Linked DNA regions of Homo sapiens. The gene in region 3 interacts genetically with the main gene of each other region. Each region holds a gene or a part of one and is shown on either strand. Other genes may lie near its edges.

Region 1 (2,274 bases), about 13 Mb from region 3:
TGAGTCATGCAAGAAACTGTCTTTCCTTTTGTTCCTAAGCCACAGATAAAAGGCCACAGATATCTCCACAGGTAACTTACTCTATCGATATGGTTTGGCTCTGTGTCCCCACCCAAATCTCATCTCGAATTGTAATCCCCACATGTCAAGAGAGGGACCTGGTGGGAGGTGATTGGATCTTGGGGGTGGCTTCCCTTATGCTGTTCTCGTGAGAGTGAGGGAGTTCTCACGAGATCTGATGGTTTTTAAGTGGCAGTTTCCCCTGCTCTCTCTCTCTCGATCTCTCTCTCTCATCTCTCCTGCCACCCTGTGAAGAAGGTGCCCTGCTTCCACCATGACTGTATTAGGTTGGTGCAAAAGTAATTGCGGTTTTGCAACTAAAAGTAATGGCAAAAACCACAACTACTTTTGCGCCAACCTGATAAGTTTCCTGAGGCCTCCCCAGCCACATGGAACTGTGAGTCAGTTAAACTTCTTTTGTTTATACGTTACCCAGTCTCAGGCAGTGTCTTTATCGCAGTGTGAGAATGGACTCATACAGTTCTAGAAGTCAGAAATCTGAAACGAGTGTTATGGAGCAAAACCCAAAGCGTTAGCAGGGCCAACTCCTGCGGAGGCTCCAGGGGAGAAGCTGTTCCTTGCCTTTTTCAGCTTCTAGGGGCCACCCGCATTCCTTGGCTCATGGCCCCTCCTTCAGCCTCTTGCTTCTATCATCTCATCTCCTCCTTGCTCTGACCTCCCGCCTTGCTCTTATAAGGAAAGATCCATGGGATTCCACTGGGCCCACCCAGATACCCAGGATCCTCTCCTCATCTCAGGATCCTTAGATTAATCTCATCTGCAGAGTCCCTTTTGCCATGGAAAGTCATGTACTGGCCAGGAGCCGTGGCTCACACCTGTAATCCCAGCACTTTGGGAGGCTAAGGCAGGCAGATCTCTTGAGCTCAGGAGTTCAGACCAGCCTGGGCAACATGGCAAGACACCATCTCTACTAAAAGTACAAAAAAATAGCAAGGCATGGTGGTGTATGCCTGTGGTCCCAGCTCCTTAGGAGGCTGAGGTAGGAGGATTGCTGAACCCTGGGGAGCAGAGGTTGCAGTGAGCCCAGATCACACCACTGCACTCCAGCTTCGATGACAGAGCGAGACCCTGTCTCAAAAAAAAAAAAAAAAAAAGTCACATACTCACAGGCTCTAGGGATTAGGATAGGGACATCATTAGGAGACATTATTCAACCTGCCACAAAGACACAGACACAACCAGATGACAGAAGCCAGGGGAAGAGTTGGAATATTATTCTGAATATGGTGGGAAGCTGCTGTTAAGTTTTGAGCAGGGAAGTAGCTTTATCTGAGTCACCTTTTCAAAGGCCCACCCTAGCTCCTGTGCGGTTGGTCCCTAGGTGAGATAATTAGCACCCTGAGGAGCAGTTTGGGTCAATGACCTCAGGGTCGCAAGGTAGAGGGAAGAGAAAGCCATTCTGGGCCTCTGGACCAGTCTATGTTCCCCAGAGAGTTTCCCCAAAAGCCCTGCCTGGCATGGGGCAGGGCGGTTATTTGCTGCTCATCTGTCTTCTAATGAGGGGTTGTATATTAGTTTGCTGGGGCTGCCATTAAAAAGTACCACAGAGGCCGGGCATGGTGGTTCACACCTGTAATCCCAGCACTTTGGGAGGCCGAGGTGGGCAGATCATGAGGTCAGGAGTTCGAGACCAACCTGGCCAACATGGTGAAGCCCCATTTCTACTAAAAATACAAAACTTAGATGGGCATGGTAGTGCACACTTGTAGTCCCAGTTACTTGGGAGGCTGAGGCAGGAGAATCGCTTGAACCCAGAAGGTGGAGGTTGCAGTGAGCCCAGATCATGCCACTGCACTCCAGCCTGCTGACAGAGGGAGATTCCGTCTCAAAGAAAAAAGTACCACAGATCAGGTGGCTTAAACAACCGACACTTATTGTCTCACAGTTCTGGAGGCTGGAAGTCCAAGATCAAGGTGTGAACAGGGGTGGTTTCTCCTGAGACCTCTCTCCTTGGCTTGCAGATGGTGCCTCCCTGTGTCTACACATGATTTTCCTCTGTGCCTGTCCACTCCCCACCTTCTCACCTGTAGAACTCAGGGCTTATTTATGCTTATTTGTTGACTCTCTCTCCTCATAATAAGGTGTGCAGCAGTGTGGGGTCAGGAACCACATCACTTTGCTCACCATGGTGTTCATTCTTTCATTCATTGATTCCACAAACATTTCCTGGATGCCTGCTAGATCCAGTCCGCC
Region 2 (3,538 bases), about 13 Mb from region 3:
GTCCCAGCTACTCAGGAGGCTGAGGCAGGGGAATGGCCTGAACCTGGGAGGCAGAGCTTACAGTGAGCCAAGATCGCGCCACTGCACTCCAGCCTGGGCGACAGAGCAAGACTCTGTCTCAAAAAAAAAAAAAAAAAAAATGTTGGAAGGCGTGAACATTAAAAAAAAAATCTGGTGAAATCTGAATAATAAAGTATGGAGTTCAGTTAAGAGTAATGTACTGACATTAGTATCTCAGTGGTGAGAAACGGATCATAGTAATGTATGATATTGACAATGGAAACTGGCCAAGGGTATACAGGACCTCTCTGTACTGTCTTTGCAACTTTCCTGTACCTCTAAAATTATTCCAGAATAAGAGGTTTATTTAATCTTCAAAAAGAAAAGGAAAAATCATGCAAAAGCCAGTGGACAGAAAGCAATCGAAGGCACCATCAGCCCTGGAGAGACAATCCCCAGATTCCTCATCACGGGAGAAAAACGGAACCCAGCATTTGTGTAAGCCACTACCGCCCAGGTTTCTGGGATGGATGCCCTTGTCTGGGTCTCTCTACCATCCATTTTTTCCTCCTGGTAACAGCCCCTCCGTTTTCCTCTTGGGATGCTTCTTACCCCACATTCTCTCAGTACACACGATTTGAGTGGGCTGGCCCTTTTGCCTGTGACCAGGGGTGGACACGTGATCCAGGCTGCATCCCTGTGGCTGGTTCAGGGATAGGTATGTGGCCCAGGCTGGGCCAGTGAAACTGGGCTCTAACACCCTCTTTCCAAGGGGACCGCTAAGAGGGGAGAGCCCGCCTGAGGGTGAGGACAACCTCAAGGACAGTAGAGCTGAACAATGGAGAGAGACAGATTCCCAGGGAGGAAGTTTTGGCAACTGGATCGAACCAAGCCTGAGGCTGTTTACTCCAGCAGGTTTCAATGATATAAGTCAAGTCATGCCCTTTCTTGTCTTCCTGAAGCCGGACTGCATTAACACGAGGTTTCTCAACCTAGACACTATTGACATGTTGGGCCTGATGGTTCTGTGTTGTTGGGGGGGCTGTCCTATGAATTGAAGGATGTTTAGCAGCATGCCTGGCTTTTAGCCACTAGATGCCAATGGCAAACCCTCTGTCCCTAGGTTGTAACAACCAAAAATATCTCCAGACACTGGCCGGGCGCCGTGGCTCACGCCTGAAATCCCAGCACTCTGGGAGGCCGAGGTGGGCGGATCACGAGGTCAGGAGTTTGAGACCAGCCTGACCAACGTGGTGAAACCCCGTCTCTACTAAAAATACAAAAATTAGCCAGGCGTGGTGGCACGTGCCTATAATCCCAGCTACTCAGGAGGCTGAGGCAGGAGAATCACTTGAACTCATGAGGCGGAGGTTGCAGTGAGCCGAGATTGCGCCACTGTACTCCAGCCTGGGTGACAGAGCAAGACTCCAACTCAAAAAAAAAAAATCTCCAGACGCTGCCAGATGTTCCCTGGGGAGCAAAATTGCTGCTGACTGAGAACCACTGCGTTAGGGTTTCTGCTCCTTGCAACTAAAAACTGTTGTTCAATACACTGTCTTCCATATCCCACGGCTCATTTTCCATACTACTTGACTCCTGGAAATTCCAACTCAAAATCTAACGTAAGAGTTTTTGTTTGTTTGTTTGTTTTTTTAAGTACAGATTTAGAGAAAGAAACAGAGGACTTGGAGAAGGAAAGACTCAGGGGCAAGGGAGGGTGCTCACATGATACTTCGCTGCATGTTGGCGTCAGAATTCTCCCTTCCTGTCCAGCACTTTTCTTCGTCTGTCAGCTGCTCCTGGAACAGAAATCCAAACACTTGTTGAGGTGATTGGTTGTGCAGAGATCTAAACACACATAAAACCCTTTCTTTAAGAAAGAAAGAAAAAAAAAAACAGAAACATGAATTTCCCCTTCAAAAAGAAACTCCTGTTTTTATGAACCAAAATAATTTGCTGGTGAGATTTACTGGTGCAGAATAAAAGCTCCAAATCAGAGAAAAAGATAAGAGGCCTCCTTTACCATAAGAAGACTGTTTTTCATCTAATATGAGGAATAGACTGAGGACCTGAAATGGGTTTTTTTGGAGTTAAGTTTAAAGGTTAGTGAAAAATTGTTTTAAGGTGATGACATAATTCCGTGAAACAACTGTGGAAGCTTATAAAATTGTACCCGCTGGTCTACATAAATTAGCTCTTGGGCAGTTTCTAAGGTATGCTGTTATTTCAAACAAAGGGCAGAATATCACAGAGTGTGTGCTACTGAACTGTGTAAAAGAGAAAGGCTATAGGTCAGGCACAGTAGCTCACGCCTGTCATCCCAGCACTTTGGGAGGCCGAGGTGGGTGGATCACTTGAGGTCAGGAGTTCAAGACCAGCCTGGCTAACATGGCAAAACCCTGTCTCTACTAAAAATACAAAAATTAGCCAGGTGCGGTGGCACGCGCCTGTATTCCCAGCTACTCTGGAGGCTGAGGCAGGAGAATCGCTTGAACCCGGGAGGTAGAGGCTGCAGTGACCCGAGATTGTGCTACTGCACTCCAGCCTGGACAAGAGTGAAACTCCATCTCAAAAAACAAAAACAAAAGAAAGACTATAAATGTATCCACATATCTTGTATATGTACAGAACATCTCAGTTGGAAGACAAAAAACTGGTAATGCTGTCGCCTCAGGAGGGACAGACGCTGGAGGGAGATTTTTTAATATGCATGCTTTTGCAGGCAGAACAATTGGAATACGTTACCCCTTCACAATATATTTTTAAAAATTAAATACTTTTTTAAAAAGTCTGTTATTTAATGAAATCAATAACAGTCACTGGGGCTTCCACAGTTTAGAGTAACTCTAATGAAAGGGTTCCTAGGCCGGGCGTGGTGGCTGCTGCCCATAATCCCAGCATTTTGGGAGGCCGAAGCGGGTGGATCGCCTGAGGTCAGGAGTTCGAGACCAGCCTGGCCAGCATGGTGAAACCTCATCTCTACTAAAAATACAAAAATTAGCCAGGTATGGTGGTGCACACCTGTAATCCCAGCTAGTGGGGAGGCTGAGGCAGGAGAATCACTTGAACCCAGGAAGTGGAGGTTGCAGTGAGATCATGCACTCTAGCCTGGGCAACAGAGTAACACTCTGTCTCAAAAAAAAAAAAAAAGAAAGAAAAAGAAAGAAAAAGAAAAAGAAAAGAAAGGGTTCTTAATCTGGGGTCCACAAAACCCAGGAGTCCAAGAGCAGAACTCAAGTGGTCTATGAAATTTGACAGGAAAGAAATTACGACTTTATTCTTGTAAACTTCTAATTGGAACTGAGCCTTTCCTTCCATTATAAATATTAAAGATATAAAAAATTATAAATTTTCTATATCTTTAATATTTATAATGGAAGAAAATAAATTACACATTATAATTATGTAATTATAATTATTTACATTATATTTCCTTCCACTATGAATATATTTTTTAAAAAAGGACTAGCAGGACCTCTGCGTGGATTGCTTGAGTTGAGACCAGCTCAGACCAGCCTGGGCAACAGAAATGGTTTTC
Region 3 (3,538 bases):
CAGGCTAGAGTGCAGTAGCAGGAACATAGTTCAGTCTGCAGCCTTCACTTCCTGGGCTCAAGTGATTCTCCCTCCTCAGCCTCCCCAGTAGCTGGGACCACAGGCACGCACCACCATGCTCAGCTAATTTTTGTATTTTTTTGTAGAGATGGTATCTCGCTGTGTGGCCCAGGCTGGTTTCAAACTCCTGGGTTCAAGAGACCCTCCTGCCTCAGCCTCCTAAAGAGCTGGGATTGCAGGCGGGAGCCACCGCACCTGGCCTCATTCATTCAACAAGCATCTACAGGCCGGGTGCGGTGGCTCACGCCTCTAATCCCAGCACTTTGGGAGGCCGAGGCGGGTGGATCACGAGGTCAGGAGATCGAGACCATCCTGGCTAACACGGTGAAACCCCGTCTCTACTAAAAGTACAAATAATTAGCCGGGCGTGGTGGCGGGCGCCTGTCATCCCAGCTACTCAGGAGGCTGAGACAGGAGAATGGCATGAACCCGGGAAGGTGGAGCTTGCAGTGAGCCGAGATTGTGCCACTGCACTCCAGCCTGGGAGACAGAGGGAGACTCCATCTCAAAAAAAACTAAAACACAAAAAAACAAGCATCTACCAAGCACCCTCCATGAGCCAGGCCCTATGCTAGGAGCTGAGACAGCAGTTGTGAACAGGAGACCCTGGCTGCTCCTTGCTCTTGACTCCAGGACCCCGGAATGCCCTGCACCCCATCTGCCTTCCCCGTTCCCTGTGTCCATCTTCTCTCCCTAGAACCAGAGGCTCCGTGGCTACTCACACTGGACATCCAGCTCAGCTCCCGGGCCCCTCTGTCCAGTACCAAGAATGTTTTCTGCCACACAGGAATAAGTCCCAGCGTGCCAGGGGAGGATCTTTGGGATGTGGACTTTCTCCTCTGTCCTTCCCTGCATTTCTTTCCCATTGTGGTACCACGTGTAATTTGTTGGAAGAGGATTGGCCAGTGACATGCAAAGAAACTCGACTTGACTTCCCTCCACAGCCGGTGAGTGGAGGATCTGAACCGTGGAAGGTTCCGGGGCATCTGGAAGAGGGGGCAGAGGCGAGTGGAGGGGTGAGGAGAGCACCCCCAACCTGTGCACACGGCCCCGAGAGCCCCCGTGGCTCCCCTCTCCGGGTCCACCCCTGCTACCTCCCTGCCTGGCCTGTCCCCAGCTCCGAGGGGCTCACACTGCACTTGCAGGAACACTTCTTCCGACCTTCCCGGGCCCACGTCATTGGAGACCTGACAGCAGTACTTCCCACTCTGGTCCTTGGTCACTTCGCGCAGGTTTAGCGTGAATGTATTCTGCTTCTTCAGCGAGGTCCCATCCTTGAGCCAGGATACCGTCGTGTACTCCGGGTTGCTGCTGCTGACCTCGCAGGTCATGGTCACAGAGTCCCCCTCCCTCACTATGGCATCACTGGGAGTGACCTTGATCTCCAACTTCGGGGTGTCTGGAGGAGCAGAGGGGCAGTCGGGGAGGGGGCGGGGAATCCTCAGAGGGTGGAGGGTGTGGAAAGTGCTTTTATTCTGACAAAGCCATGGCCTGCCAGTCCCTTCACCCAGGTGATGGTCACAGCCTCCTAACTCGGCTCTCAGCTTCCCCCTCCCACTTCCTCTACTTCTTGGTCTCCACCAGCAGCACGCAGGGTTCCTAACACCATCTACCAGACCTCGCCAATCCTGCTGGAAACCACGAGCGGGTTCTGTGCTTTGCATAGAATCCCAAACCCTCACCTCAGCCCTCGGGATCCAGAGTCCTGCTCCATCTCCTGCCTCCTGTCCTACCATGTGGCCCTCAGAGGCGGTGAACTTCAGCCTCTGAGGTCCTCCCACCCAGCTGCTGCCTCAAAGCTTTGAACCTGCCCTTCTCTTTCCCTGAAATCCTCCTCTCCCAAATATGTGCCGGCCTCAGCCACTCCCTCCGTTCCAGTCAGCTTAAGTGCTCACCTTCTTTTTTTTTCTTTTTTTGAGATGGAGTCTCACTCGTCACCCAGGTTGGAGTGCAGTGGTGCGATCTCAGCTCACTGCAAGCTCCGCCTCCTGGGTTCATGTCATTCTCCTGCCTTGGCCTCCCAAGTAGCTGGGACTACAGGCGCCTGCCATCATGCCTGGCTAATTTTTTGTATTTTTACTAGAGATGGGGTTTCACCATGTTAGCCAGGATGGTCTCGATCTCCTGACCTTGTGATCCCCCCGCCTCGGCCTTCCAAAGTGCTAGGATTACAGGCGTGAGCCACCGCACCCGGCCTAAGTGCTCACCTTCTTAGAGAGGTCTCTCTCCATCACTCCCCTCTCTCGGCCTTATTTTTTTCCTAACACACATATCACTACCTACAATAGTGTTGTATATTTCTTTGTTAACATTGCTTTGTTCCAGATTCTAATGTCTTGGCTCATGCTCTGTATTTCTTTGGTAATCCATTTGTTGTCTGTCTCTTTCACTGCAGCGCTGGCTCCGCGTGGGGCAAGAGTTTTGCTCACTGCTGCACCCTGCCCACCGCCCCATGCCCCCCATTGGCAGCCGTAATAAGGCCTGGTACCTAGTAGGTTCATGATACGTATTTATTGAATGAATGAGGCACAAGATAATGATGCGAAAAAAATCCCCACCAAGAGGGGAACAAAAAGACCTAACCAGATAATCCCCAATTCATGTCATGGCTTGAGGATGGACCATTTTATTCTGTTAGGCTAGAGCAAATCTTTTTCCCGAAACACCAGGGCTGACAAGGCGGCGTGACCAGGGCTGGAGGATGCCGCCGTCTGTGCAGGCTTCCCCCTGCCCTGGGTGCATGCCCCCTGCGGGGCTGGGGAGAAGGTGACACAGACCTTGCCCTTCCCACAGGCATGCCGGGGAGACTCACGCTTCACGTTCAGCTGCACCGTGTCATTGGAGAGGAACTTCCCATCTGCATCCTGAAGCTGGCAGGTCACAATCTTCCCATGGTGACTCCACTGTGGGGAGAACTTGAGCTCGCTCCGGGTGAAGACAGACTTGATGGTCAAGGAGGTCGAGGTGACAGCAGCCTGCCTCATTGGAACCCCCTCTAGGAGCCACTGCAATTGGATCGGATACCCATAGCAGGAGAAATTCAGCAAGCAGGTCAGAGTGACTTCCTGGGACTCTTGAATTTCTGGAGGGAGCTGGATATGAGGTGGAAAAGGCCTTTCTGCAAAAGAACAGAGCCCGTGCAGGAGCCTGGGGGACTGAGGACGTGAGCGTACACCTGGCTTTAGATGTCCTGTCCCAAATCACCCCTCAGGAACCCCTTGCCACTTCATTCCACCTCTCTCCAGTCCTGCTTTGTTTTTTTGTTGTTATTGTTGTTGTTGTTGTGTTGTTGTTTTTTTGAGATGGAGTTTCCCTCTGTCACCCAGGCTGGAGTGCAGTGGCGCGATCTTGGCTCGCTGTAACCTCTACCTCCCCAGTTCAAGTGATCCTCCTGCCTCAGCCTCCCGAGTAGCTGGGATTACAGGTGCCCACCACCACACCCAGCTAATTTTTCTGTATTTCTAGTAGAGACAGGGTT
Region 4 (3,541 bases), on a different chromosome or scaffold from region 3:
TGGGCGTGGTGGCTCACGCCTGTGGCCCAGCTATATGGGAGGCCAAGATGGGAGGATCGCTTGAGCCCAGGAGTTAAGGCTGCAGTGAGCCCTGATCACACCACTGCACTTCAGCCTGGATGACACAGCGAGATCCCGTCTCAAAGCAAACAACTAGGCAAAGCACAAGCAGTGGACAGAGGGGCCGGGAGAAGAGCTCGTGGGAAGCGTGGGGTAGGGGCTCATGATGGGCAGCCCTGGGGCTCCCGGCGACCATTCTCTGTCTTGACCCGGTTGCAGGGACCTGGCTGTCCTTTATAATCAACTGAGTTGCCCGAGTGGCTCTGTGTGACCCGAATGCTGGATGCATCGTGTGGGGAGAAGCCAGCCTCGGGGACCAGGGCTGCCCAGGAGGCCCCGTCCCACGGTGACTGGCTGTGCCTTGAGGGCTAGGACCTCACACTGTGGCAGGTGTCCTCAGCACACCTGGACCCCTTCTCTCCCAGTGACATCCACAACCAGAAACACAGCGATGCACACCAGTGATTTCCATGCACTTTAATGAGGTCCAGCACTCAGGAGGATTAGCGCCCACCACCAGCTATCTGGGCAGGGGAGGGCTGGAGGGCCCGGTGCAGGCGTCAGGCTTAGGACAGGGAAGGGGGCTCAGGATAGGGAAGGGTCCTCAGGACAGGGGAAGGGGCTCAGAAGAGAGCAGGGGGCTTAGGACAGGAAGGGGCACTCAGGACGGGGCAGGGAAGGTGTGGGGGGCAGTCGCCACCTGGGTAGGAAGCAGTGGTGTTTTGGACAGCAGGGGTTGGTCCTCCAGTGACCCAGGTGGCCAACCCAGGCCTGACTCACGGCTTTTTGGGGACATAGTGGTGGATCCAGTCCAAGTAGTAGGTGACACGGGTGTAGATGCCAGGCCGGTTGGGCTGGGCACAGCCCTCGCCCCAGCTGACCACGCCCGCCTGCAGCCAGGTGCCATTCACCTTGCACACCAGGGGCCCTCCGGAGTCGCCCTGGGAAGGTCAGAGGTCAGCGCTCGCCGAACAGGCCTGGGAGTGGGGGTTGGGGGGCGGGGGGCGGGGGACAGGCGGGGCCCACCTGGCATGAGTCCCTCCGGGTGTTCCCGGCACACAGCATGTCGTCACGGACGATGCGGACGTCGTCTCCCGTGTAGGCGCCAAGGTGGTATTTTGCGTCACAAATGTGGTTTTCCATTATGGGGACCTTCACCTGCTTCAGAGGAAATGGCGGTGGGAGGCGCTCTGCAGGTGGGGAAGAGGGTGCAGCCTCAGGAGGGGGCCGGGCAACCCCCACCTGGAGCCCAGAGGGAGCCCAGGGGCTGGGCTGTGGCTAAGACCCTGGCCCCACCTCCACTGTCCCCAGACCCACCATCATTGTCCACATCGCCCCAGCCAGTGACCCAGCACGGCATCCCCGGGGGGAAGGTCTCTGAGGCAGGGGGCAGGGTGACCGTGTGGACGTGGCTGGAGACGTTCACCGGCTCCTCCAGCTCCAGCAGGGCGATGTCCGCTCCGATCTGGGCGGTGTAGAACTGTGGGTGCACGATGATCCTGCTGACCGGCAGCAGCTGGTCCTGGTAGTAGAGGTGCTGCTCCCGCAGTTGCACCCTGAGGGCGGCCAGATCCTTGACGTCCCTGGGCAGCGGAGGATCCCACTCAGGGCCCTGGGCAGCCCCCAGGAGCACCCGGGAGCCAGGGCTCACATCCAGCCCTTCCCCACCCCTCCAGGCCCCGGGAGACTCACGGTCCCACGCAGTGCGCTGCGGTCAGCACCCACTGGGGGTGGATGAGGGAGCCCCCGCAGAAGTGCATCCAGTATGGGCCGTGGACTCTCAGGCTCACCTGCCAGGGCCACTTGCTCCTGGGGGCCTCCTGACCCCCGACGATGCCCACTCGCTGCAGGGCCTGGCCTGGGGCTGGGGCAGGTGCCAGGTCAGGACCAGGAAGCAGCCCCAGGCCTGGGCCCAGCCCTTCCCTGTGTGGGGGCCAGCCCGACCTCCCCAGAACCCACCCAGGCCCTGACCTGTGGAATGTGGTGAGGGGCAGGGTGGACCCCGGCTGGGACTCACCAGGGGCCGCGTAGGCGCGGCTCGCCAGGACGGGCAGCGCCAGCAGCAGCAGATTCAGCATCTGGGGAGCAAGGAGGAGCATCGTGGGCCTGGCCGGGCCTCACAGGGCAGGGCTGGGGGCTACAGATTGTGGGGTGAAGAATGGAGCTGGGACGGGGGGACCGGGGTGGGTCCAGGCCTGCGGGCCTGGGTCTTGGTGCTCTGAGTCTGAGGCTGGGCCACTCTGCTCCAGGTGACGCTGATGTCAGGGTCTCTGAGAGTGGGGACTTACCCTGGCCGCTCCCTGTTCCTTCTACCCAGTGGGCTCTCCCCTCCCCATTTATCCTTCCAGATCAGGAGGGGGCGGAGGAGGGGCGCTGGGTCCTCCCATCCAGACTCGGAGGAAGTGGATGACTCAGACCCAGGGCCCCCGTGTAACACGTGCCCCCGCCACCCCGATGCCCTCTGTGTGTGGGGCTGCCAGGCAGGCCCCGCTGAGGGCTGAGCACTGGAGACTGGCAGCTCCACCTGTCAGCTGGTGGATCCCAGCACTGGAACCCACCACCTTCCCGCTGGTGGGATCTGCTCCTGCCCCTGTCTCGGTGCCAGGAGGCCTTCAGGCATTGCTGCACCCAGGTGGCCTGGCTGCCCCAGGCTACAAGACCCGTCGCTCCTGAAACCTGTTTCCCCAAGAGGGACACGGGTGAGGAACTCATGTCCATGGGCCACGCTCCAAGAGACGGGAAGGTGCCCACGGGGTGGGGACATGACGGGTGACACCCCTCCTACGGACTCCGAATCCACGGGGGTGGGGCCAGCCCTCCTCGACTCACTTGGTTGGGGGCTCACGTGAGACCCCTTTGTCAGATGGGGAAACAGCCTTGAGAGGGGACAGCACCAAGTGTCCTCAGCCAGGAAGGGGCCCTGCTCCCCACCCGCCGTATGAGACCCAAGTCCTCCTACGAGTCCTCAATGTCCACCTCTGGGGCTGTCCGTGCAGGTCCCCTGGTCTGCAGGTGCCTCCTTATCATGGGATCTGAGCTTCATACGCAGAGGGAAGAGCAGAGAGGAGTGCAGGTGCAACCCCAGGAGGCCCAGCCCAGCTCCCCATGGACTCACCCCCAACTTCAGCCCCAGCTCCCCATGGACTAGTCCCAGCCCCAGCCCCAGCTCCCCATGGTCTCATCCCCGGCCCCAGCTCCCTGTGCTCTCCATCCCATTCAGCGCTGACACTGTCCCTGCAGGTCCGTCCACCCCACCTCCCGACTCCCCTGGGCCTGTTGGTCACTGGGGCCTCCAGCCCACCTCCTCCGCTTCTGAGCCCCAGGACCCCCTGCCTGCCCCCCGACCCCCAACACAGGGCCACTCCGGGGCTCCTCCTGCCCCCACCCTGCCTGGGACCAGCCTGGTTTGGGGCTGACTCTGCACTGCGGGGCCATATCCATCTGGACTCCTTCCGGGCTGCACCCCCCGGGGGACAGGCAG
Region 5 (3,538 bases), on a different chromosome or scaffold from region 3:
CATATGATAATTATTATATTTCCTGCCCGAGCAGACAACAGGCTAGATAAAAGAGCACCTTTTTCATAATTTGTACACTTGTCCACTCTCCACCATGCCCCACTGTGGTAACTCTGTGGGGTCTGCAGCCTGGGAATACTGGTCTTCATCCTGAGCACCACTGAGATGTCTTCTCTTTCGCTCAGCTCTAACTTCTGCAACAGCTGTGACATGCCTCCTGTCTTGTCCTCCTGCTCCCTTCAAATCACTGCTGAGCTAGATACATTAGAACACCAGAAGCACTTAAAATATAGATTCCTGGCTGCTGCATCCTATCTCCCAAAATTCCAGTTTAGTGGGTCTGAGACCAGGGATCTATTTTTCAAAAATCACCCAGGCTAAAAGGAATTGTTGTTCACTTTCTTGAGTGTGACAATGATATTGTAGATATATGTGAAAATGCCTTTATTTTAGGAGATGTAAACAGAAGATTCAGAGGTGACATGTCATCATGTTTGCAACTTATTTACAAATAGTTCAGTGCTCAGTACGTGTGTGTGTGTGTGTGTGTGTGTGTGTGTGTGTGTGTGTGGTGTGTGTGTGATGTAAAATACATACTCTACAGTGAAATGTTAACAACGTTGAATTTAGATGGTGGGTATACTGACGTTCATTTTATCATTATTTCACCTTTTCCTTATGTTTCAACATTTTCACAGTTAAAAGTTGGAGGCATAAACTCTCCAGATGACTCCGATGTTCTCCCAGGTTTAGGTGCTGTGTGGTAGACTTCACTGAGCTCTAAGAGGGAAGGTGTGTCTGTCTTTTGAGTCCTACAGCACAAGTCTAGCAGATGGTAAATTCTTGTCAACCTGGGCTCCCTTCTCTCCTCTCCTCTGGATTTTTGGGACACTTAGCAAATCATTTCTGACTTACTCATGAGGCTTGTCTCTTTCTCCTGCCAAAACCCCCTCTCTGGTCACTCCCATCTTGGTAAAGGCCTTTGATGGAAGGCCAATGCTCTCATGACCAGCACCCCGCTGGGATCCTCCTGCACTTGCACAGTCTGACAACCTGCCTGTGCCAGGAGGGCCCAGAAGTGTCTTCTCTGTCTACGGCACGAGTGTGGGCAGCCGTCATTGCCCGAGGTCACTGCCTTCTAGTCAGTGCAAAGTGAAGTGACATTGGCGACAGAGAAAGCTTACCCGGATGGACAGCCCGCTGGCTGCTCTTCACTGCCCAGGCCCAATTAGCCTAGACTAATTAGCTGACCAGCTGGGGTTCTGAGGGGTTTGGGGGCCAGTGGCCTGGAGCTGCTGCCAGCCTGCGTCAGAGTCTGCAGCCTCCCAGGGGAGAGGCAGGACTAAGTGGGGAGTCAGTTCCAGACAAACTGTCTCTGATCTGCCAGCCATGTAATCATCTTCAAGGTGCAGGTTCAGACACCCTGCAGGCTGGCAGAGGTATGGACTAGAGCACAGCTGAAACACTTGGATATGGAGGAGGGAGGATGGTGGTGCAGGGGGCTGATTCAGGTGTGTGTGACCCACGAGCTCCCTGGGCCTCAAAAGTCCCTTCTGTTCCAGTTAGAGCAGAAGAAGAGGTTGTTCACTGCTGGAGAAATGAAGATGCTGGGGGAGGAGACTGGGAAAGTTCTAGTGTCACTGGACCTCCAGAAGTGCTCTCCAACTCCCCTCTCCTGACAGAGGCAAGAACCCACAAACCGGCACAGATCTGGAAGGAGGAGAGGGTCATTGCAGGTGGGTCAGAAGGAGGCAAACCCTGGGGGAAAGGGACTGGTATTCCCTGAGAGCTCCAATTTTGTTTTGTTTTGTTTTGAGACAGTCTCGCTCTGTCACCAGGCTGGAATACAGTAGCGCAATCTCGGTTCACTGCAACCTCCGCCTCCTGGGTTCAAGCAATTCTCCTGCCTCAGCCTCCCGTGTAGCTTGGACTACATCCAATGTATTAAATCATCTTTGGTATTACCCAAAGTACCTGCCACCCACTCCACCCACCATCCTCCAGGCCACAAAACTCTCCCTAAGTCCCTTAAATAAATCGAAATGAAGTCACAGCAGCCTCAGTCCAGTTCATCAATTGCTGCCAGCAGAGAACAACTCTTCTAACCTCCCACTGCAGGCAGCCCAGCCCACCCGACCTCACAGCCCCAGGACTTACGATCCCAGCACTTCCATAAAAATGAAGGTTTTCCGGATGTTGGTGGTCTGTTTCTTCCAGGAACTGCAGTCATCTTCTTCCTTTCGACCCATTGCCTCCAGAGTTGAAGCTTCTGAGGATGCTTTATTGCAGGGAGTGGGAGAAGGAGGAGAAAAAAGGTCTGGTCAGCTGCTTTCTCAAACAAGATTAAAAACAGGCTGCAATACTGACATCTTTCTGTAATTATCAGAAGGAAGGATTAGGAGCAAACCTGGATAACTGGAAAAAGTGAAACTATCTCCACACTTGCTTTCAAAAATTACAAGGACAAATTCATGGAATGCCTACTACATGTGCACTATGCTTGCTGCATGCTCACATCAGGGCAATAGTAAGTACGTGTGTAGATAACCTGGGAATATCCACCTTGAGGGGATCTGAGCTCAGCTCAGGCATGTCCTGTGTTTTCCAAATGATAGTCACAATGTTTACTCAGACTACAGAGTCAGCCAGGCTTCCTCTCTAATGTCACAACTCTGCCACCTCCCTCAATTTTTCTCACTAGTACCTCTCTCCCACCTGTTATGGGTTAAATGAATGAGTATTGTGCTGTTTTTGTAACTCCTACAACATTTAGCACAGTGCTGGGCAAATAGTTATTCACGAAAATCTAAATTGAATCATTTCCTAAATTTATATCAGAGTTCTGGAGTTACCATATTTATTCAACAGTTAACCAATATGTATTTAGCACCTACCGTGTGCAAGGTGCCGATGGGTACTGATAACAACACAGATGCTGGCCCTGCCTTCATGGGGCTGCCAGCCTGAAGGAGACGGGCAATGGGCAAGTAAAGTCATACGTGTACAGTTACAAAGTGTGGGGAAAATTATGAAAGACAAAAACCTGGGTTTGTCATAGAGATAAACAGGGAGGGTCTTCTTTAGATAAAGTCCAGGGAAGGCCTCTTGAGCAGGTCATATTTAAGCTGAGACCCAAAGTTTGGGAAGGAGCCAACCAAGCAAAGAGCATGTGAAGGAGCTTCTGTGCAAAGGAAATAAAACACCAAAGCTGGAAGGGAGGAAATAGCATAGTGTGCTCCAGAGCCTGAAGGGGCAGTGTGGCTGGTGCAGAGTGAGCTCCGTATGGTGGGGGGTGGTGAGTGGGTAGGAAGAGGCAGGCAGGGGCGGACAATAAAGGGCTTTGTAGACTCTGTTTAAGACATTGGATTTTCTTCTAGGTGAGATGGGAAGACATGAAGGATTTTTAGCAGGGGAGTTATTACACCATTGATGTTTTAAAGAGTTCACTCTGGCTGATCTGTGAAGGGAGAGAGATGTGAAGAGAGAGATGATGGTGGCTCGGGCCAGATGGGAGTGAAGGAGAGAATGATGAACCTGG

The links.
Region 1: changes in CD22 (region 3) and PLA2G4C together harm fitness less than expected from each alone (positive genetic interaction), as found in Homo sapiens cells (one large-scale study listed by BioGRID).
Region 2: changes in CD22 (region 3) and LIG1 together harm fitness more than expected from each alone (negative genetic interaction), as found in Homo sapiens cells (one large-scale study listed by BioGRID).
Region 4: changes in CD22 (region 3) and TPSAB1 together harm fitness more than expected from each alone (negative genetic interaction), as found in Homo sapiens cells (one large-scale study listed by BioGRID).
Region 5: changes in CD22 (region 3) and CAMK1G together harm fitness less than expected from each alone (positive genetic interaction), as found in Homo sapiens cells (one large-scale study listed by BioGRID).

Annotation. Positions count from the first base shown.
Region 1 is NC_000019.10:48,049,575-48,051,848, reverse strand, and holds part of PLA2G4C (cytosolic phospholipase A2 gamma isoform 1 precursor), read left to right. Parts: intron 1-2,274. UniProt on the Homo sapiens protein: Calcium-independent phospholipase, lysophospholipase and O-acyltransferase involved in phospholipid remodeling with implications in endoplasmic reticulum membrane homeostasis and lipid droplet biogenesis.
Region 2 is NC_000019.10:48,163,825-48,167,362, forward strand, and holds part of LIG1 (DNA ligase 1), read right to left. Parts: intron 1,800-3,538; 5' UTR 1,743-1,799; coding exon 1,726-1,742; intron 1-1,725.
Region 3 is NC_000019.10:35,335,676-35,339,213, reverse strand, and holds part of CD22 (B-cell receptor CD22 isoform 1 precursor), read right to left. Parts: intron 3,179-3,538; coding exon 2,873-3,178; intron 1,460-2,872; coding exon 1,193-1,459; intron 1,047-1,192; coding exon 783-1,046; intron 1-782. UniProt on the Homo sapiens protein: Most highly expressed siglec (sialic acid-binding immunoglobulin-like lectin) on B-cells that plays a role in various aspects of B-cell biology including differentiation, antigen presentation, and trafficking to bone marrow.
Region 4 is NC_000016.10:1,239,536-1,243,076, reverse strand, and holds TPSAB1 (tryptase alpha/beta-1 precursor), read right to left. Parts: upstream 2,373-3,541; 5' UTR 2,349-2,372; intron 2,139-2,348; coding exon 2,078-2,138; intron 1,925-2,077; coding exon 1,753-1,924; intron 1,644-1,752; coding exon 1,378-1,643; intron 1,251-1,377; coding exon 1,087-1,250; intron 1,002-1,086; coding exon 837-1,001; 3' UTR 523-836; downstream 1-522. UniProt on the Homo sapiens protein: Tryptase is the major neutral protease present in mast cells and is secreted upon the coupled activation-degranulation response of this cell type. May play a role in innate immunity.
Region 5 is NC_000001.11:209,593,695-209,597,232, reverse strand, and holds part of CAMK1G (calcium/calmodulin-dependent protein kinase type 1G), read right to left. Parts: intron 2,279-3,538; 5' UTR 2,250-2,278; coding exon 2,158-2,249; intron 1-2,157. UniProt on the Homo sapiens protein: Calcium/calmodulin-dependent protein kinase belonging to a proposed calcium-triggered signaling cascade. In vitro phosphorylates transcription factor CREB1.